Linked DNA regions of Homo sapiens: all the other regions are linked to region 3. Evidence: fine-mapped expression QTL. A gene starts in region 3. Each other region holds a variant in brackets. All regions are shown on one strand. Distances are from middle to middle.

What was found.
Region 1: its variant is fine-mapped to the expression of ARSL in transverse colon (GTEx, PIP above 0.99).
Region 2: its variant is fine-mapped to the expression of ARSL in stomach (GTEx, PIP above 0.99).
Region 4: its variant is fine-mapped to the expression of ARSL in lung (GTEx, PIP above 0.99).

The regions. Positions count from the first base shown.
Region 1 is chrX:2,923,047-2,928,929 of GRCh38, forward strand. ARSD (arylsulfatase D) reads right to left here. Exons shown (of 10, transcript NM_001669.4): 2 at 2,570-2,719. Among named protein-coding and RNA genes, the nearest start is that of ARSD, 3.4 kb to the right of the region's middle. RefSeq lists enhancers at 789-1,299, 1,300-1,809 and a silencer at 5,781-5,883. The variant C/T (reference allele first, on the strand shown) is at 2,792.
Region 2 is chrX:3,797,167-3,803,049 of GRCh38, forward strand. No RefSeq gene overlaps it. Among named protein-coding and RNA genes, the nearest start is that of TRI-GAT1-1, 38 kb to the right of the region's middle. The variant C/G (reference allele first, on the strand shown) is at 2,717.
Region 3 is chrX:2,961,026-2,966,908 of GRCh38, forward strand. ARSL (arylsulfatase L) reads right to left here and starts at 3,316. Exons shown (of 11, transcript NM_000047.3): 1 at 3,199-3,316. RefSeq lists enhancers at 1-324, 325-1,150, 2,801-3,624, 4,955-5,014.
Region 4 is chrX:2,786,944-2,791,943 of GRCh38, forward strand. It overlaps XG (Xg glycoprotein (Xg blood group)), which reads left to right. Exons shown (of 11, transcript NM_001141919.2): 5 at 2,701-2,763. Among named protein-coding and RNA genes, the nearest start is that of XG, 37 kb to the left of the region's middle. The variant C/T (reference allele first, on the strand shown) is at 2,750.

The DNA.
Region 1 (5,883 bases), 38 kb before region 3:
CCCTAACAGGGGAATCTATAGAGATGGAAAGTATATTAGTGGCTGCCAGAGGCTGAGGGTTAGGGTGCTGAGAGAGTTGGAGGAGTGTTAGCTGGGGCTGCCATAACAAAGTCCTACACACCTGGCCGCTTCAACACCAGATATTGGTTGGGCACGGTGGTTCACGCCTGTCATCCCAGCACTTTGGGGGGCTAAGGTGGGTGGATCACTTGAGGCCAGGAGTTCGAGACAAGCCTTGGCAACATAGTGAAAACCTGTCTCTACAAAAAATACAAAAATTAGCTGGGCGTGGTGGCATGTGCCTGTAGTCTCAGCTACTCAGGAGGCTGAGGTGAGAGCCTAGGAGATGGAGGTTGCAGTGAGCTGTGATCATGCCACTGCATTCCAGCCTGGGCAACAGAGTGAGACCCTGTCTCAAAAAACAAAACAAAATAAAACAGAAAAACAAACCCAGTAGACATTTATTCTCTCACATTTCTGGGAGCTGGAAGTCTGAGATCAAGCATGGGCAGGGCTGGTTCCTCCTGAGGCCACCACCCTGGGCTCGTAGACACCATCTTCTCCCTGTGTCCTCAGGTGGTCATTGCTCTGTGTGTGTCTGTGTCCTCATCTCCTCTTCTTATAAGGACCCCAGTCCTATTGGATCAGGGCCCACCCTAGTGACCTCATTTTACCTGAATCACGTCTCTAAAGACTCAGTCTCCAAATAGAGTCACAGTCTGAGGTCCTGGGGGTCAGGACTTCGACGTAGGCGTTTAGGGGACACAGATTCGCTCCTCGCTGGAGGTGATGGCTAAGGGGATGCAGAGTTTCTTTGGGGGTATGCAAATGCTCTAACATGGTTTGTGGTGACAGATGCACAGCTCCATGAATAGAATAAAAGTCCCTGAACTGTACACTGTAAACAGATGAACCGCATGTTCTGTGAATTACAACCAGGCCTGCTCAGGGTGTTCGAAAGGGGATCCCTGGACAGGGGGCAGATTGATTGATTGATTGACTTAGAGACAGGGTCTTGCTCTGTGGCCCAGGCTAGAATGCAGTGGCGCAACCTCAGCTCACCATAACCTCCACCTCCCGGGCTCAAGCCATCCTCCACTCTCAGCTTCCTGAGTAGCTGGGACTACAGGCATGCGCCACCACACCTGGCTAATTTTTTGTATGTTTCATAGAGACAGGGTTTTGCCATGTTGCCCAAGCTGGTCTCAAACTCCTGGGCTCAAGTGATCCACCTTCCTTGGCCTCCCAAAATGCTGGGATGACAGGCGGGAGCCACCGTGCCCGGCCCACACAGGGCAGACTGCTGCAGGTGCTGCAATGTTCACTGCAAAGAAGGGAGGCCCTGCTCTGCGGGGACCGCTCCTGAGGTTGGCAGCTATTGAAAAGCAGATGCAGCCTGCATTCTGGGGCGGTCCTTCTAGGAGAAAAGCCCACCAAATGGAATAAGGAGCTTTCTCACCTTTTCTCCTGTTGCAGAAAGCACGTGAGCACCACTCAAGCGCTCTGCTGGTAAGGTTGGCATAGAGGCTACTACTCTGTGTTTGCACATGCCACTGCAGTGGGCTGAATGGGGGTCTGCGAACCGATCTGTCCACGTGCTGACCCCCCAAACCTGTGTGTGAGACCTTGCTTAGAAAAACTGTCTTTGGAGTTGTTATTAGGTATCCCGAGATGAGATCATCCTGGTTTAGAGAGGGCCCCAGATGCAATGGCCAGTGTCCTTCTGAGAGACAGAGGAGGAGACACAGACACAGGGGAGAAGGCCGCATGGGGACGGAGGCACAAACTGGAGTGATGTGGCCACAAAGCCAGAGATGCCTGGAGCCCCCAGGAGCTGGGAGAGGCAGGAAGGGTCCTCCCCTACAGCCTCTCAGGGAGCTCTGTTGGTGTCTTAATCTCCTCTTTTAGTAATCCATATCAGATTAGGGCTCACCCTAAGGACCTCAGTTTAACTTAATTACCTCTTCAAAGACCCCATCTCTGAAAACGGTCACACCCTGAAGTACCGGCGGTTAGGGCTTCAACCTACAAATTTGGAGGAGGCCAGAATTTGGCCCACAACAGACGTTGTTTGCAAACGTCATCAACAGAAGATGAGATCTTTACAGCGGGCAGGCCTTGCTGCAATGGCCGGTGTCCTTATAGGATGAGGAGATTAGGACACAGACGCAGAGGAGAAGGCCCCGTGGAGACGGAGGCAGAGACTGGAGTGATGTGGCCACAAGCTCAGGGACACCTGGAGCCCCCAGGAGCTGGGAAAGTCCGGAAGGATCCTCCCATAGGGCCCCCAGAGGGAGCCCGGCCCTGCCCACACCTGGATTTAAGATTTCTGGTCTCCAGACCTGGGAGAACAAATTTCCGTTGTTTTAAGCTACCCATTTTGTGGTAGTAATACATTCACCCCCTCACCGCAGTTCCGCATGGTTTAAAAGGGCCTTTTTACCTGTTGGTAGTTTTTTGTTGAGTTCTGAGGCCCTAAGGAGTTTCCTAATTTCTCCAGGCAGATTTTAAATGCACCATTCCGTCAAACTCACATAACATCATCACCAATAGCAACAACCAACTGTACCTCAGTGTATTGTTCCCGTAGCAACCGAGATCCCCAGTGCCTAGATCATCCGCCATGATCAGTAGGATATTTGGTTTAAAGGCATTTGCAGTTTTAGGTTCACACGTCTTCAGAAGCAAGCATAAAAACAGTAGCACCGGCAAAGAGTCCCTGGAGAGAAAAGCGAAACACAGAAATGACTATCTACAATTTGGCAAGGGAAGTAGGCATTTCAAGGCAGCT[C/T]GCTGGGAAGGCGAAGGTCTTACCACTAAATTAAGACGTTCAGCTTTATGGGAGGTTATTGTCTTGGCCTGAATTCCTGCACTGGTGTCCCTGGGCCAAACCGAGGGTCAGACTGCTATTTCTTGTGACCCAATAGCGAGATGCAGATGAATTGGGAAAGAAGAGAGTTTTTAATTCTGTAACCAGTTACAGGAGGAAGGCCTGGAAATTCTCTCCCAACCAACTCAAAATTACAAAGCTTTCCAGAGCTTATATACCTTCAAAGCTATATGTCTAAGTGTAAGTGTGCATTTATCTAAAGACATAAGTGATTAACTTCTTCTAATCTGTAATTAAGATCTGAGTCCTGAAGACCTTCCTCTGGAGCCTCGGTGAATTGACTTAATCTAGATGGGTCCAGGTGCTGGGGTGATTACCCTTATCTTGTCTCCTGCTAAATCACAGAGTTCTGGGGAGTTCCTTTAGTCCCCAACAAAGCTTGTTTGTGGAGGTCTGGGGAGTTTCTTCAGACCCACAATAAAACTTGTTTAATCCTAAATGGGTCCTGTTAAGAATTCCTTCGTTATCTTGTCATGCTTCAAAGGCCCAGGAGAGGCCTGGGCAGAACTCTTGGTGTGCTTTTGTTACATCCCAGCCTGTGCATAAAGGCGCTGGTTGTTTCAGCTTTTAGTATGTAACTTCACACTCAGTCAGTGCTGAAACAGTTGTTACGGAGGCCTGCATTAGTGAGACCTGGCCTGCCACACTAGACCATACAGGTCAGAACAAACTGGAATGGAGTCACTTGTGTTAACTGCCACATCGTCAAGCTGAACAGGGAAACAGGTCAGTTTTCCAAAAAACAGAAGATTTGAGTAAGCAAGAAGAAGATGTGTAGTTCATCTGAGCTAACAAAGTCTCCCGTGCTTTAACCCTGTAAGAAAAGTAACTTTGAAACAACCAATCTGCTTTATTATTCTTTTTTTTCTTTTTTTTGAGATGGGGTCTTGCTGTGCTGCCCAGGCTGTAGTGGCATGATGGTGGCTTACAGCAACCTCTGCCTGATTCTGAGGTGGGAGGATTGATTCAAGCAGTCCTTGAACTGCAGTGGATAGGTGGTGTCTTAGTGTTGGGGGATCGTGGCTGTGCTCTCCGGGGAGGACGCGAACGAGGGGTGTGTCTCAGGGTGTGTGAGGGGACACGGCTCTACTGGGGGGCAGGGGAGGAATAAGGCCATGGGGAGGGATCCGGTGTGGCCAGCAGGGCAATGGCCGCGGAAGGGGACAGGACGGGGCGTGTCTTGGAGGGTGGCGAGAGGCACGGCAGTGCTGCTGAGGCAGGAGAATAGGGTCTGGAGGCAGGGAACCTAAGGCTTTCCATGCCGACTTCCTAGAAGTAAATTGAAAGGAAAATCCTAACTTTCCTTTTTTTTTTAATTTTAATTTTTATTATTATTTTTTGAGATGGAGTTTCACTCTTGTCGCCCAGGCTGCAGTTCAATGGCATGATCCGGGCTCACTGCAACCTCCACCTCCAGGGTTCAAGCGATTCTCCTGTCTCAGCCTCCTGAGTAGCTGGGATCACAGGTGCCTGCCACCACGCCCGGCTAATTTTTTTGTAATTTTAGTAGAGGCCCGGCCTAATTTTTGTATTTTTAGTAGAGACGGGATTTCACCATATTGGCCATGCTGGTCTCAAACTCCTGACCTCAGGTGATCCACCCGTCTCGGCCTCCCAAAGTGCTGGGATTACAGGCATGAGCCACCTCGCCTGGCGGGAAAATCCTAACTTTCCATGCCTAAGTAACAAAAGGACCGAAGGCTTCCCTTTGACCTTTTCTATTGGGTAGATAGTAGACTGGCTGTCTGCAACCAATCGGACTGATTTCGGGTCTAGTCTTCGTGTGCAACTTTGTGACTTCACCCTAGTCTCTGATTAGTTGGGTTTTGCAACCAATCAGATGTTTGCACAGGAGTGTGACCTTTGTAACTTCACCCTTTGGTTGGCTGCTGCCTGCAACCAATCAGACTGATCGCGGGCCACCACTTCAGTTACATGAGGTGAGCATGAAGTGGCCAATGGGAAACTTCTAGGGGGTATTTGGACCCAAGAAGATTATGTACCCGGGCCCTTGAGCCGCTGCTTGGTCGGCTCCCACACTGTGACGTGTCCTTTTGTTTTCAATAAATCCCTGCTTTCCTTCTTTTGTTGCTTCATTCTTTCTTTGCTGGGCGTTTTGTCCAATTCTTTGTTCAAAACGCCAAGAACCTGGACAACTTGCAGTCACGACCCTCTACCGGTGGCACTGGGGCGCAAATGAAGCTGGGAATGCAGGACCCGGCGCATCTGAGGAAGTGCAGCGGGGCATGGCGGTGCTAGAGGGTGGGGACATGGAGGCGGCACAAGGCCAAGGCGCCGGGGGATGGCCAGAGGGAAGTAACGGCCGCGCTTGTGGTGGAGATGGGGACGGGACAGAGAAGTCTTGGGGGGTGACCGGGGTAGGCACGGCGGTGCTGGGGGGAGGGCGCCCAATGAAGCCCACGGGGGGGAAAGGGGCGTGTCTTACCGAGCGTGTTGGGGGAGTCACAGCCGTGCTTGGGAGGATGGGGTCTGGGGGAAGGACGGGGCGCGTCTTAGTGGGATGAGGGGGAGGGCACAGCCGTGCTGGGAAGGCAAAGGGCCGGGGGGCGGGATGGAGCATGTCATGGTGGGGCCGAAGAGGCGGGGGGCGGGAAGGGGCCTTCTTAGAAATCGGGAGGGCGTCACAGCTGTGCTCGGGAGGACGGGGCGTTGGGGAGGGACAGGGAGCGTCTTAGTGGACCCGGGGAACACGGCCGTGCTGGAAGGCATCGAGCTGGGGGGTTGGGGGCGGGACGGGGTGCCTCTTAGGAAGTGGGGCGGGCAAGGCTACGCTTCGGGGGATGGAGCCTTGGGGCGGGACGGGGCGCGTCTTAGTGGGGCAGAGCGGGGGGCGCGGTTCGGGGCGGGTCTTAGGGAGCCTTTGAAGGCCGAATCCGGGCAGCGGTGTAGCTGGGCGTGGAAGGCGGAGGACCCAGCAGGGCGTGACCGGCCCAGTTTCCGCTCCCTCCGGGTCCCGGCCAGCCTTCCTCCGC
Region 2 (5,883 bases), 840 kb after region 3:
ATATTACCCTTCCCTTCTACGTCCATCAGGTTTCTATGTTGTCTTCTAGGAAACCCACGAAAGATTGTAAAGTCAATAAGATTTAAACATCTTTCAAATTCCCAATGGCCAGACAGAAATATTTGTTTGCAAAAATTTCCCCAAAGAGGTGCACAGATAAATCTTTTAAGATGAAGCCATGCGAAAATATAAAGGAAGGGCTGGGCGCGGTGGCTCAGGCCTGTCATCCCAGCACTTTGAGAGGCCAAGGTGGGCGCATCACTTGAGGTCAGGAGCTTGAGACCAGCCTGGCCAACATGGTGAAACCCCATCTCTACTAAAAATACAAAAATTAGCCGGGTGTGGTGGCACATGCCTGTAATCCCATCTACTTGGGAGGCTGAAGCAGGAGAATTGCTTGAACCCAGGAGGCGGCGGTTGCAGTGAGCTGAGATTGCACCACTGCACTCCAGACTGGGAAACAGAGTGAGACTCTGTCTCAAAAAAGAAAAAAATATAAAGGAAGACTGGTATCTGTTTGTCTGTTGAGTGTTGGACAATGTGGGGATGGGGAGGACAGGATTGTCTCTGCTCTTAACTTTCTTTTTAAATTAAACTTTTTTTGGAGATGAGGTCTTGCTCTGTTGCCCAGGCTGGAGTGCAGTTGTGCAATCGTGGTTCACTGCAGCCTTGGCTGCCTGGGCTGAAGCGATCCTCCCAGCTTAGCCTCCTGAGTTCCTGGGACCACAGGTGTGCTCCACCATACCCACTTAGTTTTTTATTTTTTGTAAGGTTGGGGTCGTGCTGTGTTGCCCCACTTGTCTTGAGCCCCTGGGCTCTAGTGATCCTTTTACCTTGGCCTCCCAAAATGCTGGGATTACATGCATGAGCCACTGTGCCTGGCCCTGGCTCTTAACTTTTGGGGTAACTGAAGTGATGCCCACCGTAGGTTTTGAGACTTAGGAGAAGACTAATTTTTTCTCTATGGAGAGGAAATTTATAGAACATAAAACTCAACATTTTGTTATTTTTATTATTTATTTATTTTTGAGACAGAGTCTCACTCTGTTGCCCAGACTGGAGTGCAGTGGTGCAATCTCAGCTCACTGCAACCTCTGCCTCCTGGGTTCAAGCAATTCTCCTGCCTCAGCTTCCCAAGTACCTGGAATTACAGGCGCCCACCACCATGTCCGGCTAGTTTTTGTATTTTCAGTAGAGACGGGGTTTCACCACGTTGGTCAAGCTGGTCTCGAACTCCTGACCTCAGGTGATCCACCCACCTTGGACTCCCAAGGTGCTGGGATTACAGGCGAGAGCCGCTGCACCTGGCAAAATTCACCATTTTAAAGTGTACAGCTCAGTGAGATTTAGTATGTTCACAACCACGTCTCTATCTAGTTCCAGAACATTTTCATATTTCCAAAACGGGACCCTGTACCCACTAGCAGTCACTTCCCATTCCGCCTCCCCAGCCTCTAATGGCCATGTATTTTCCGTCTCTGTGGATTTGCCTATTTTGGACACTTTATATAAATGGCATCATATAGCACGTGGTCTTTTGTGTCTGACTCGTTTCGCTGAGTGTGCTGTTATTCAGGTGCACCCACACTGTAACCTGTTTCCGAGCCGCATTCCTCTCTAGGGTTGCATCATGTTCCCTTGTGTGGATGGACCACGTTGTGTTTTTCTTCATCCACTGATGGTCATTTGGGTTGATTCCACTTGAGATGTTTTTTAACCTACGACTCAGGACACCTGGACTAGATTATTCATGATTTCTTCCAGATCTGCGATCTTAGATTTAAATAAATAGCAGTGTGCCATTTGGGTCACAGATGTTAGTTCTGTGTGAAACAGATCTATAGATAGGAAGAAGAAGTTTAACGAAGAGAAGATACAGACGGGCTGTGAAAAGTACCTGGGAAGAAATTGAAACTGCAACAGGGAAATGATGATAAAGTTTTTGGTGTGCAATGGATTATAAAAGGCGCTATACAACGGAGAGAATGTGTCCTTATTGTGTTCAGAGGATGAGAAGGTACGCAGGTGTGAGTCTGGCCTTGAATCTTCAACCCACTACTTCATCATTATTTTATTAAAACAAAACTTCGATGCATTTCAAATCATTGTCTTTTCCACATTAGGTAAAATTACATGCTATTTTTCATTTGAAGTATTTTTGGTTTTTGGTGGAGTAATGCTCTTATGGGTCTTTCTAATTTTATTTATTTATTTATTTGTTTATTTATTTATTTATTTATTTATGACAGGGTCTCTCTGTGTCACCCAGGCTGGAGTGCAGTGGCACGGTCTCAAGTAGCTGGGATGAAAAGCACACACCACCATGTCCAGCTAATTTTTTATTTTTATTTTTACTTTTTGAGATAGAGTCTCACTCTGTTGCCCAGGCTGGAGTACAGTGCTGCAATCTTGGCTCACTGCAACCTCCACTTCTCGGGGTCAAGAGATTCTCCTCGTTCAGCCACCTGAGTAGCTGGGATTATAGGCATGTACCACCAAGTTAGGCTAATTTTTGTATTTTTCATAGAGACAGGGTTTTACCATGTTAGCCAGGTTGGTCTCGAACTCCTGGCTTCAAGTGATCTGCCCACCTCGGCCTCCCAGAGTGCTGGAATTACAGGCATGAGCCACTGTGCCTGGCCAATTTTTTAAAAATTTAAGTTAAATTAAAATTATTTAATTTTTAATTTTTTACATGTTTATTTTAGACTCAGGG[C/G]TACATGTGCAGGTTTCTGACCTGGGTATATTGCATGATGCTGAGGTTTGGGCTCCTAATGGACCTGTCACCCAGGTAGTGAGCCTAGTACCTGGTAAGTACCTTTCCATCCGCTGTCCCCCTTCCTTCCTCTCCCGTCTAGCAGTCCCCAGAGTCTATTGTTCCCATCTTTATGTCCATGGGTACTCAATGTTTAGCTCCCACTTGTAAATGAGAAGATGTGCTATTTGACTTTCTGTTCCTGCCTTAATTTCCTTAGGATGATGGCCTCCAGCTCCATCCATGTTACTGCAAAGGACATGATTTTGTTCTTTTTATGGCTGTGTAGTATTCCTTGGTGTAGAGGTACCATATTTTCTTTATCCAGTCTGCCATGGATGGGCACCTGGATTGATTCCATGTCTTTGCTATTGTGAATAGTGCTGTGATGAACATATGTGTCCGTGTGTGTTTTTGGTAGAATGATTTATTTTCCTTTGGGTAGAAACTATTTTTTTAACAACTTTATTGAGATATAGCTTACATATGATATCATTTACCCACTTAATGCATGCAATTCAGTGTTTCGTAGTATATTCAGAGTTGTGCAACCATCACCACTATCAGTTTTAGAGCATTTGATTTTTTTTTTTTTTTTTTTTTTTTTTTGAGACAGAGTCTCGCTCTGTTGCCAGGCTGGACCGCAGTGGCGTGATATCAGCTCACTGCAGTCTCTGCCTCCAGGGTTCCAGCGATTCTCCTGCCTCAGTCTCCTGGGTAGCTGAGATTAAGGCACGCGTCACCACACCCAGCTAATTTTTGTATTTTTAGTAGAGACAGTATTTCACCATGTTGCCCAGGCTGGTCTCGAACTCCCGATCTCAGGTGATCACCTGCCTAGGCCTCCCGAAGTGCTGGGATTACAGGCGTGAGCCACCGCTCCCAGCCGAGCATTTGATTTCTTTGGTAAGACACTTTGTACCCTTTAGCTATAACCACCTTAACACCCCCTGCCCCCATCCCTAAGCAACCACAAATCTACTTTCCATCTTTATAGACTTCCTTGTTTTGAATTATCCTTTACATGGGATCATACAGAACACAGCGTTTTATGACTGGCTTCCATCACTTAGCAAATTGCCTTCAAGGTTCACTCATGTGGTGGCCTGTGTCAGAGCTTCAGTCCTTTTTAGGGCTGAAGAATATTCCATGATATGGATGGACCACATTTAGTTTACACATTCATTTGCTGACAGGCCATTTGAGGTTGTTACCACCTTTAGGCTACCATGAATAATGCTGCTGTGAATGTGTGTTTGAGAGTTTACGTGAGCAGACGTGAGCACATGTTTTCATTTCTCTTGGAGATATACTTCGGAGTGGAAACCCACCATGTTTTAGCTGTGAAATATTAGACTTGTCTTAATGTCTCCAAACTTTTGTTTCCACATTTATAAAATACAGTAGTACTTTCCTGGTAGGATTTGGGTGGCAATTATATGATTGTAGTTTGCAAAGAAGTTAAGAAGTGGATGGCACATCATGAGTGCTTCAACAATCACAGCTATGGCTATTATTTGTAAAAATAAATTTGCAGAAAGAGAAAGCCTGTATAGTGAAGGGGCTAGATAAATGTTTGAAAGCACAGAAGAGTTTACCATGGATTCACATTCCTTTGTTGAGGGTTGAATCATATGCCCAACTAACATATGTTGAAAGCTGAACCCCCAGTACCTGTGAATGGGGCCTTATTTGGAAATCCGGTCTTCACAGATGTACTGAAGGATGTGTGTGAAGTAAGTGATGCAGATGTAGGTTAAGGATCTCAAGATGAGCTCATCCTGGATTAGGGTGGGCCCTGAGTCCCCTGACAAGTATCCTTTTAAGAGACAGAAGAGGAGACAGGCACAGAGAAGGAGGCCACATAAGAAGGCAGGGACTGGAGTGATGTGGCAGCAAGCCCAGGGACACCGGGAGCCCCCAGGAGCTGGAGAGGCAGGAAGGATCCTCCACCTGAGGATCCTAACCCCTTTAAATTCACAGAACCTGTGAATGGGATCTGATTTGGAAATAGAGTCTTTACAGATACTATTCGTTAAGGATTCCAAAAGGAGCTTATCCTGGGTTAGGGAGAGTCCTGCATCCAATGACAGGTGTCCTTCTAACAGATGAAAGAGGAGACACAGACACAGAGGAGAAGGCCACGTACAGATGGAGGCAGAGACTGGAGCGATGCGGTCATAAGCCCAGGGATGCCTGGAGTCCCCAGGAGCTGGGAGAGGCAGGAAGGAACCTCCCCTGGAGCCTCCCCTAGAGCCTCCCCCAGAGCCTCCCCCAGAGCCTCCCCTAGAGCCTCCCCCAGAGCCTCCCCTAGAGTTTCCCCCAGAGCCTCCCCTAGAGCCTCCCCTAGAGCCTCCCCCAGAGCCTCCCCTAGAGCTTCCCCCAGACCCTCCCCTAGAGCTTCCCCCAAAGCCTCCCCTAGAGCCTCCCCTAGAGCCTCCCCCAGAGCCTCCCCCAGAGACTCCTGTACAGCCTCCCCTAGAGCCTCCCCCAGAGCCTCCCCTAGAGCCTCCCCTAGAGCCTTCGGAGGGAGCGCAGCCCCGACATTCCTTGATTTCAGACTCCTGGCCTCCAGGACCAGGAGACAATCAATTCCGGTTGTTTTAAGCTACTCAGGTTGTGGTACTGTATTACGGCAGCCTCAGGAAAGTCACTTGGGGTAAACACATTTGACACCCAAGAAGTGCTTCCTGCTGGGCGCAGTGGCTCACACCCATAATTCCAGCACTTTGGGAAGCTGAAGTGGGAGGATTTCTTTAGCCCAGGAGTTTGAGACCATCCTGGGCAACAGAGCGAGACCCCGTCTCTACAAAAAATAAAAAAATTAGCTGGGGCTGGGCGCAGTGGCTTACGCCTGTAATCCCAGCACTTTGGGAGACCGAAGTGGGCAGATCACCTGAGGTCAGGAGTTCGAGACCAGCCTGGACAACATGGTGAAACCCCATCTCTACTAAAAATACTAAAAGTAGCCGGGTGTGGTGGTACACGCCTGTAATCCCAGCTACTCAGAAGGCTGAAGTGGGAGAATCGCTTCAACCCAGGAGGTGAAGGTTGCAGTGAGCCGAGATCGCGCCACTGCACTCCACATTCCAGCCTGAGCGACAGAAGGAGACTCTGTCTCAAGTAAA
Region 3 (5,883 bases):
AAAACAGAACTGGGAGTGTCAGTGTGAAGGAAAAAGGCCTAGAGGACTCTGCAGGCACTGAGTGCTGCATGAAGGAGAGACGCATTCGCCTTCATTGCTAGGGGTAGGTGCTGCCGGGAGAGGGGGCGACCATTGCCCACACTTGGAAATGTTCTGTCCACAGAGGGAAACGGGCGACCCCCAAAGCACAGAGGGGCGGCCCCTCAGTCTCGCCGAGAAGTGAGGGAGAGCCCAGGGTGTAGAGCAGGAAAGGAATGAGATGGAAGATAACAATTAGAGTTGCAGGCAGCAAGAGGTCACCTTCAGGGTACTGCAGTGGTCTGACCCCATGTGGCTTGTGCATGGGACTGAGGACGAAGCTCTGATTTTTCTTTTTATCTTGCCCAAATTCCTATCTAAGGGGTCTGGAGAGTCATGCCCTACAAACCAAAAATTCTCATCAGAAGGGTTTCATTTAACTATATATTGTGACTTACTTTCCAATCTGACTCTGGCATAACATGAGACCAATAAGAAAATCAAAATATTTTACCCAAAAACATGTTTCTTTGCCATATCTTGAAATGGCCCTGCAAAGCTGTCCTTTGTGGGGAAAAATTTGCATCTGTAAAGATGTAAAGAATCTCTATTCACATAGATATTCACATCTTTTTCTACCGGACCCTTCCAATCCTGAAAAGATTGACTAAGACTCTAGCACCTTTTAAAAGTCTGAATAGGAAACAATTGTCATCTATTGTCTCTAAGGGCAGCCGCTACAAGACTTCAAAATAACCTTGGTCTCCACAATCTTTTCTCTTAACCTGAAGATTTCTTTTCTAGGGATCCCAGGGTTTTTTTTTTTTTTTTTTAATCTTTCTTTTTTATTTTTTTGAGACGGAGTCTTGCTCTGTTGCCCAGGCTGGAGTGCAATGGCGCGATCTTGGCTCACTGCAAGCTCCGCCTCCCGGGTTCAAGTGATTCTCCTGCCTCAGCCTCCTAGGATCCCAGGTCTTTAGATGAACTCAACCAATTGTCAACCAGGAAATGTTTAAATCTATGTATAAGCTGGAAGCCCCCTGACTTTGAGTTGTTCCACCTTTCTGGACCAAACCAATGTGTATCTTAAATGTATTTGATTGACACCTCATGCCTCCCTAAAATGTATAAAACAAGCTGCACCCTGACCACCTTGGGCACACGTTCTTGGGTCCTCCTGAGGGCTGTGTCATGGGCCATGGTCACTCTTATTTGGCTCAGAATAAATCTCTTCAAATATTCTACAGAGTTCGCTTCTTTTCGTTGACAGGACATGGGCATGCATAGAAGATAAAGAGACAGGAGCATGCAGATGTGTTGGGTTTCTGCCTCTGAGTAACCAGGGGAGTGACCTGGCCACTTTTAGAAGGGCCGAGCGGCCAGTGAGTGAGGACACACTGGAGCCAGCAGGCACTGAGAGCCTAGAAGTGGCCGTGGTGTCTGTCCAGGTGAAACCTGACCAAGGATAGACACAGCTGGTGTGGGAGCGGGGAGGGCAGAGAGGAGGGGTGGGCAAGGTCCGCAGGGCTGCGAAACCCCAGGGTGTGAGTGGGAGAGAAGCGATTGGTTGAGGGATTTCCCCTCAACGCCTTTTCGGGGATGCTGGGAGGGGTGTTTGCTCCTAGCAGGATTCAGGCACAAAACCAGTCTTCTGAGAAAGACAATGAGCTTTGTGAAAGGAAAATAAATCTCAAGGCCCGCAAGTCAATAAGCTAAAGGGAAAAGTCAAGCGGGGAACTGCTTAGGGCCTCTGCCTCCCATTCTAGTCAAAGTCCCCCCTTTGCTCACTGAGATAGATGCGTATCTGATTGCCTCCTTTGGAAAGGCTCATCAGAAACTCAAAAGAAGGCAACTGTTCCTCTCTCACCTATCTGTGACCTGGAAGCCCCCTCCCTGCTTACAGTCTTCCTGCCTTTGCTTCAAGTTTTCCGGCCTTTCCAGACCGAATCAATGCACTTCTTACATTATTGATGGATGTCTAACACTGAATTGCTACATCTCCAATAATTTTCTGTCTGTCGAAGAGAAAAAGACCTTAGATATCATTTGTGCTTTGTTTAGAACACAGAAGGAAGGGATAAGGTGTACGCCGTGCTCGTGAGGTTTTTTTGTTTATTTGTTCGTTTGTTTTACCCTAGAGAGCACACACAATTCTCATATTCTAAAAGTAATAGCAAAAGACGCAATTACGTTTCACCAACCTAATAGCATCTTCACCGGGAAAGAGATTGATTTAAAATTGTACATGGAGAGAAAACCAAAATGAGCATTTTAATACCCTCAGCATTGCTTTCTGACCTACAATGACATGCTGCCAATGGTCAGAAAACGGAATAAAAGCAAAATACTGTACAAATGTAATGAGAAAACCCCAAACCACCACAAACTAGGGGAAGATGGTTTTTGCAGCAATCCTGCCCAGCAGTGGTTTATCTCTGGGTGTGGAGATTTAGGAAAAGTGCTCTTTTTCTAATTTTTCTTTTCTTTTCCTTTTTTTTTTTTTTTTTTTTTTTTTGAGATAGGGTCTGGCTGTTTCACCCAGGCTGGAGAGCAATGGTGCGACCATAGTTCACTGCAGCCTCAAATTCTTGGGCTCAAGCGATCCTCCTACCTCAGCCTCCCAAGTAGCTGAAACTACAGGCACATGCCACTATGCCTGGCTATTGATTTTTTTTTTTTTAAGTAGAGGTGGGGTTTCCTCTTTTGCTCAGGCTGGTCTCAAACTCCTGGGCTCAAGCAATCCACCCGCCTCGACCTCCCAAAGTGCTGGGATTACAGACGTGAGCCACCGTGCCCGACCTAATTTTTCTTTCTCCCGCAATGTTATGTATTTATAAGTAAAAATATGAATATTTTTTCTTGGAGAAAAACGTTAAATAAATAAAGAGATGGTGATAACAGCCTTGAATGAGTTTAATTTTGGAAACTGTGACATTGAGGTGACCCAGAGCATGGGGCCTGCCCAAGGCCTCTCCTGCAGATTAGAAAACAGATCCCCCTTCTCCAGGAAAGAGCTGCATTCCTAGGCCTGTAAGTCACGGGTACGTTTCTGCTTTATCAAAACAAACTGGGCAATTATTCAGAGACAGAAAAGGGAACGGGGAGCTCTTTGTTCACCACGCTATTCATGCCTGGTCACGGAGCCCAAATCCAGCACAAATGAACATTCACAGGACTCACCTCTGCTCCTGGGCTCCTTCCTGAATCCCCGATCAAGAAGAGGAAGGTTCTCTCCCAAAGGAAGCAAGCGTGAAGGCAGAGAGCACTTGCACAAGGCTTTGAGCTGGGAATGATTAACTTCGAGTTTGTTTTTCCCAAGTCAGAAGATCAGAGAGAGTTAGGACAGACAGAGCAGACTCCCCCCACATCGCAGCATGGGGGAATCTCAAAGCCACGCCCACGTCTACCAAACCAGTGGTCAGTTTCCTTAGGTTTTTATTTTGTTTTATTTTTTGTAGAGACGGGGTTTTGCCATGTGGCCTAGGCTGGTCTCAAAGTCCTGAGCTCCAGTGATCTGCCCTCCTTGGCCTCCCGAAGTGCTGGGATTACAGATGTGAGTCACCGTATTCTGCCAGTGTCCTTAGGTTTTTAAGTGATTGCCTGTGCTGTTACACAGGGTGCTGGCTATAATATGATCATATCCAACCTGGCATGGTGGCTCATGCCTGTAATCCCAGCGCTTTGGGAGGACGAGGCAGGAAGATTGCTTGAGGCCAGGAGTTTCAGAGCAGCCTGGGCAGCAAAGTGAGATGCTGTCTCTTCAAAAATAAAAAATATTAGGCTGGGCAGTGTGGCTTATGCCCATAATCCTAGCACTTGGGGAGGTTGAGGCAGGAAGATCGCTTGAGCCCAGGACTTCGAGACCAGCCCGGGCATCATAGCAAGACCCTGTCTCTATAAATAATAAAACAATTAGCCAGGCATGGTGGCATGTGTCTCTACTGCCAGCTACTCAGGAGGCTGAGGTGGAAAGATTGTTTGAGCCTGGGAGGTTGAAGCTGCAGTTTCACTCCAGCCTGAGTGACAGAGCAAGACCCTGCCTCAAAAAAAAATGTTTTAAAGAAGTTATTTGTTGAGTGGTAAATGAAGTAAATAAGAAATAATAAAGATAAGATAAAAATAAAAAAGAAAACATTTCTTAAAGTAAATAAACAAACAAACAAAAGAAGTAAAAAGGCCAGGCGCAGTGGCTCATGCCTGTAATTCCAGCACTTTGGGAGGACGAGGTGGGCCGATCACTTGAACCCAAGAGCTCGAGACTAGCCTGGCCAACATGGTGAAACCCTGTCTCTGCTAAAAATAGAAAAATTAGCCAGGCATGGTGTCACATGCCTGTAATCCCAGCTACTCGGGAGGCTGAGGCAAGAAAATTGCTTGAACCCCGGAGTCGGAGGTTACAGTGAGGCAAGATCGCAGCATTGTACTCCAGCCTCAGCAACGGAGAGAGACTCTGTCTCAAAAATTATAGTAATAATAATAATAAACATAAGATAAAAAGAAAAAAAATAAGCAAAAAAAAAAGTAAAAAAAGGATTATTTTCAAGCAATGCTTGGTTTAAAAACATAGAAAAGACGGGCTGGGCACGGTGGCTCACGCCTGTAATCCCAGCGCTTTGGGAGGCTGAGGTGGGCTGATCACCTGAGGTCAGGTGTTTGAGACTAGCCTGGCCAACATGGCAAAACCCCGTCTGTACTAAAAATACAAAAATTAGCTGGATGTGGTGGCGTGCACCTGTAATCCCAGCTACTTGGGAGGCTGAGATAGGAGAATCGCTTGAACCCGGGAGACGGAGCTTGCAGTGAGCCGAGACTGTGCCGCTGCACTCCAGCCTGGGCGGCAGAGTGAGACTCCGTCTCAAAAAAGAAAAGACAAGACAAGACCAAGAGGGCAGGAAGCAGTTTCTGAGGCACTGCATGATCATTGCTGGGAAGTTACTCTGTAGAATGGAACCCTACGCAATGGTCCCTATTATTCAACCATCCTTGACCTACAAGGACGGGGTTTCATAGAGTTCCACCTGCTGTCTCTTCGCAACTTCATATGCAGCCACATGCTGGGTCTGTGAGAAGTCACATAGCCTACCTGATCTCACTTCCTCCTTATGTGGGGGTGGAAACCACCCTACTTCTGGGATGAGGAGCTGACACGCTGGCACACTCCAGCCTGACTCATTTTTACAAGTGGACGGTTTTGGTGGCATGTCTCAAAACGAGTATTAGGAGGGGTGTCAGAAATGTTTTCTTTTCCTGCCACAGGTGTGTGCCCTAATGGTAATTGCTTTCACTTTGTGATTTTTGGCAACAAATCTTAAGTCATTTCCTCGTAGGGGGCCTAAAGGAATATTTTCACCTATATTTTAATTTATATATTCATAATTATTATATATAATATAGTATAACTTTTGTACATCATACATAGTATAAATGTATCACATAAAATATGTAAATAAGGCTGGGTGTGGTGGCTCACGCCTATAATCCCAGCACTTAGGGAGGCCGAGGTGGGAGGATTGCTTGAGCCCAGGAGTTCAAGTTAAGTCTGAGCAACAAAGTGAGAGCCTATCTCTAGAAAAAAAAAACAAAACAATAAAATATATAAATATAATATATAAATATATAATAAAGCATAATTTTTCTTTATTAAAATATGCATGCTTTTCTTTACAAAAATAATATATACTTTAAAATATATATGTACATATATGTATAGATACATAAAACATGTACATATACGTACACATCTACATATAAATACATGTTATAATATGCACGTATAAATATAAACATATAACATATAAACATGTACCTATAGACATCTACATACATGTTTATGTGTTCATATATGTATGCTTATATGTATATAAT
Region 4 (5,000 bases), 170 kb before region 3:
TGTCTGTTGTTTATAAGCCACCCAGTCTATGGTGTTCTGTGACAGCAACCTGAAATGGACTAAGACACCTCATAAGAAGGGGAGATGAGGACGCAGACACACACAGAGGGACAATCCTGTGAGGACACAGGGAGAAGATGGCATCTGCAAGCCCAGGAGAGAGGCCTCAGGAGGAATCAGCCCAGCCCACACCTGGATCTCAGACTTCCAGCCTCCAGGACTGTGGGAGAATCAATGTCTGTTGTTTATAAGCCACCCAGTCTTTGGTATTCTGTGATAGCAGCCTGAAATGGACTAAGACATCTCATAAGAAGAGGAGATGAGGACACAGACACACACAGAGGGACGACCCTGTGAGGACACAGGGAGAAGATGGTGTCTACAAGCCAAGGAGAGAGGCCTCAGGAGTAAGCCCAGGAATCAATGCAGTTGGAGGTTCTGTGTGTGAATGGAGGAGGGAAGCTCACAGATGAAGGCGTTTTGAGGGAGGACTGACCTTACAGTGAGGTACCCAGAGACTTCCTGAACCAAGCCACGAATATGCAGCTCGTGCTCCGGGCAGTGCCTTCTGGCCTGGAAACCAAAGCTCCCTTGTGTCCAGTCCCCACTCCTCTGTTTGGCCCCCAAGTTTCCATAATCCCCCACAGTTGTATCATTTTAGAGACCTCAAAAGAGAGTCTAGGCTGGGCGTGGTGGCTCATGCCTGTAATCCCAGCCCTTTCAGAGGCCGACGTGGGTGGATCACCTGAAGTCAGGATTTCAAGACCAGCCTGGCCAACATGGTGAAACCCTGTCTCTACTAAAAATACAAAAATTAGCTGGGCATGGTGGTGTATACCTGTAATCCCAGCTACTTGGGAGGCTGGGGCCAGAGAATCGCTTGAACCCAGGAGGCGGAGGTTGCAGGGAGCCGAGATTGTGCCACTGCACTCCAGCCTGGGCAACAACAGCAAAACTCCTTCTCAAAAAAAAAAAAAAAAAAAGAGAGTCTAGGCAGGGCATGGTGGTCCATGCCTGTAGTCCTAGCTATACTCAGGAGGCTGAGGTAGGAGGATCACTTGAGCCCAGGAGGTGGAGGCTGCAGTGAGCTATGATTCACCACTGCACTCCAGCCTGGGCAACAGAGCAACACCCTGTCTCAAGAGAGAGAGAAAGGGAAAGAGAGAGAGACTATTTTGAGAAGTGAAAAACCAGTCATTCTCAGCCCAGATTTCCAGTGTTCTGAGACGTCTGTCCTGAGGAAGGACTTTGAGAACAGCATCCTTGCCTTTTTTGTGAATTAAAGTAATTTCACTCTTGAGCCAATGTGGATAAGCACTTGACAGGTACTGGCAGTGCCAGGTACCAGGAATATAGAATGGGTACAGAAAATAAAGTTTCTAGTCCAGCGACAAAAAGGTGCTGAAGATACAGACTCATGTCGTGCAAAGAGCTTGCACTGATTATTTCATTTCGGCTTCTTGAATAGGGTCAAAGGACATTTAAGCTGAGACAGGAGGGACGAGCTAATTAATGCTTTTCCAGATGACAAATGGATTCTTCAAATATTTAGGGAGAGTGTAAAGTGATGGACAGGGAACAGGAGGGGTCATGACAGAAGGAATGCCACCTGCAAAAGTCCTGGGGCAGGGCTGGGCACGGTGGCTCATGCGTGTAATCCCAACACTTTGGGAGGCCAAGGTGGGCAGATCACCTGAGGTCAGAAGTTCGAGACCAGCCTGGGCAACATAGTGAAATCCCATCTCTACTAAAAATACAAAAATTGGCCAGGCGTGGTGGCACACACCTGTAATCTCAGCTACTCGGGAGGCTGAGGCAGGAGAATTGTTTGAACCCAGGAGGCAGAGGTTGCCGTGAGCTGAGATCACACCACTGCACTCCAGCCTGGGCGACAAAAGCGAAACTCCGTCTTAAAAAAAAAAGTCCTAGGGCAGAAAGCTCATGGTAAACTTGAGGAACATGCAAAAGTCATTGCAAAAAGTTTTAAGAAATTCAAATGAAGCCAGGCTCAGTGTGGCTAATGCCTATGATGATTCCAGCTCTTTGGGAAGGCAAGACAGGACGATTGCTTAAGAACAGGAATTTGAGACCAACCTGGGCAACATAGCAAGACCTTGTCTCTACACAAATTTTAAAAATTAGCCAACTATGGTGGTATGCACCTGTAGACTGAGCTACATGGGTGGCTGAGGTGGGAGGATTGTTTGAGCCTAGGAACTCGAGGCTGCGGGGAGCTATGATTGCACCACTGCACTGCAGCCTGGGCAACAGAGCAAGACTCTGTCTCAAAACAACAACAACACAAATTCAAATGAAACGGTGTAACTCAAGCAAGATGGAAATACAACACACTATCAAAAGGTCAGATGTTTCATCCTAACATTTATAGAAGTGACTGACTTCTGTAAATGGTGCTGGCATCTGTAGTAGCCCTAAACAGGGAAAGGTCAACAACGCACTTTCTGCCCTGTTAATTTCAGAGAGCCCTGGACTTCTTGCGAAAGCACCAGTGGTGTAAGTTTTTGTTTTTTCATTGTAAGCTCTGAGGTGGTATTATGAATATTGTCTACATGATTAATAAGCTCCGTAAAAGCAATGGGCAGTAACATCTTTTCTGTACTTTGGCATTCTTATTTATAGATGGTATCTACCTGAAAGATGTCATTATTTTTCTGAAATCATACTGTTGTTTTCCAACAGATATCTACCCAAGGCCAAAGCCACGCCCTCAACCCCAGCCTGGCAATTC[C/T]GGCAACAGTGGAGGTAATGAGTATTTATTTATTTATTTTTATTTTATTTTATTTTATTTTATTTTACTATTTTATTTGATTCTATGTTATTTTACTTTATTTTACCATTTTATTTGATTCTATGTTATTTTACTTTATTTTATTTGATTCTATGTTATTTTACTATTTTATTTTATTATTTATTTTGGAGACAGGGTCTCGCTCTGTTGCCCTGGCCAGAGTGAAGTGATGTAATTGCAGCCTTGAACTCCTGGGCTCAAGCAATCTTCCTCCCTCAGCCTTTCAAGTAGTTAGGACTACAGATGTGTACCACCTACATTGCACCACCTATATTTCACCACCTATATTGGCTATATTTCAAATTTTTTGCAGAGACAGGATCTTGCTGTGTTGTTCAGGCTATTCTTGAACTCCCGGCCTCAAGCAATCCTCTGCCTCAGCCTCCCAAAATGCTGGGATTACAGGCACCAGCTATTGTGGCCCAGCCTGATAATCAGTATTAAAGTCCATTTTAGAAGTGTTTGGGGCCAGGCACAGTGGCTCATGCCTGTAATCCCAGCACTTTGGGAAGCCGAGGTGGGCGGATCACTTGAGGTCAGGAGTTTGACACCAGCCTGAGCAATATGATGAAACCCTGTCTCTACTAAAAATACAAAAATTCGCCGGGCGTGGTGGTACATGCCTGTAATCCAGCTACTCAGGAGGATGAAGCAGGAGAATCGCTTGAACCCGCAAAGCGGAGGCTGCTGTGAGTTGAGATCACGCCACAGCACTCCAGCCTGGGAGACAGAGCGAGCCCCTGTCTCAAAAGGAAAAAAAAAAAAAAAAAGAAGTGCTTCACGCCTGTAATCCCAGCACTTTGGGAGGCCGAGGTCTCCTCAGGCAGATCACCTGAGGTCAGGAGTTTGAAACCAGCGGCCAACATGGTGAACCCCTGTTTCTACTAAAAATACAAAATTAGCTGGGCAGAGTGACGCGTGCCTGTAATCCCAGCTACTGGGGAGGCTGAGGCAGGAGAATCGCTTGAACCCAGGAGGCGGAGGTTGCCTTGAGCCAAGATTGTGCCAATGCACAATCTATCTAGGTGATAGAGTGAGACTCTGTCTCAAAAAAAGGCGGGGGGGTGGTTGGATACAAGTATTATTTAATGACTTAAAAATTCTCATCTCCATGGTGAAAGACCAATTGCTTTTGAAATGCACAGACATTGTTTTGCGAGGAGTTCAGTTCTACTATCCACCAGCACCTGGGGATTACATTTAGTTGATAGTAAATAAATTTAAATGTTTTTGATGACATTGACTGAAAAATACCATGCACACTAAGACATTTCAAGTTATGATGGAGGAAGGCAATTTTTTCTTGTTTTTTTTTTTGTTGGTCTGTGTTCTACTCACTTATTCTTCCCTCTGCAAGAGTTATCTGCGGCCACTTTGCCTGTGTTCCTACAGCACTTCCCATCTCCGCCTTGGCAATTGTGTCTCACGAACGTGAGACACTCAGGAAAGAGATGCTGGTCTGTAAAGTTGGAAGAGTCTCAGCGATTCCATTGGTGGGGCAAATGTGTGCAGATTGAGGAAGCTAAGATACACTGGGTGTCTTCCTCTCTCCACCTGCTTTAACCATTGGGAGTTCCCCTGATTGTGATTGTTTCAGGACGTTGCTTGGATGTTGTCATATTCCTAGGGTTCAAGGCACTCCGTGAAATCCAAGGAAACAAGCTTTGGGTATGTCCCAGTGCCTTTTCCCTTGGGTCTTGCAACTGAAGAATTGTGTTTCTTCCCTAGAAAAACGAACACACTTTTGCCCACTCACCCACCTCCTGCAAGTCTCCAAAACCACAGCGTTGTATCCTAGACTATGTTCCCCCAGGAGGTGGTTCCTCCCTCTGCATTCCCGTACTCCATACTGCTTGATATGTTCTTACATGCAACACCGTGCAATTGTGTTTAGTTGATTCCTGTGAATTAGAATGAGAACTCTACATGGGCATGGATTTTTGCCTTTCATTCACTGCTGCATTCCCTAGTCTGGAAAGCTGTGCCTGGCACACAATGAGTCCTAGGTGAAGGTCAGTGAAGTCATTAATGCTTGAGTCCCAACAGGCAAACAGCTGGATTCATGAATGAAAGACTTACCGCTACATCCCTTCATCAGGGTGTATAGCTTCAACTCCATTTCCTGGAAAGCTCTACAATAGTTCTTCCTCCTCAAAAGGCTCTGGTCTTGTGATTCATAGCATTCGTCCAC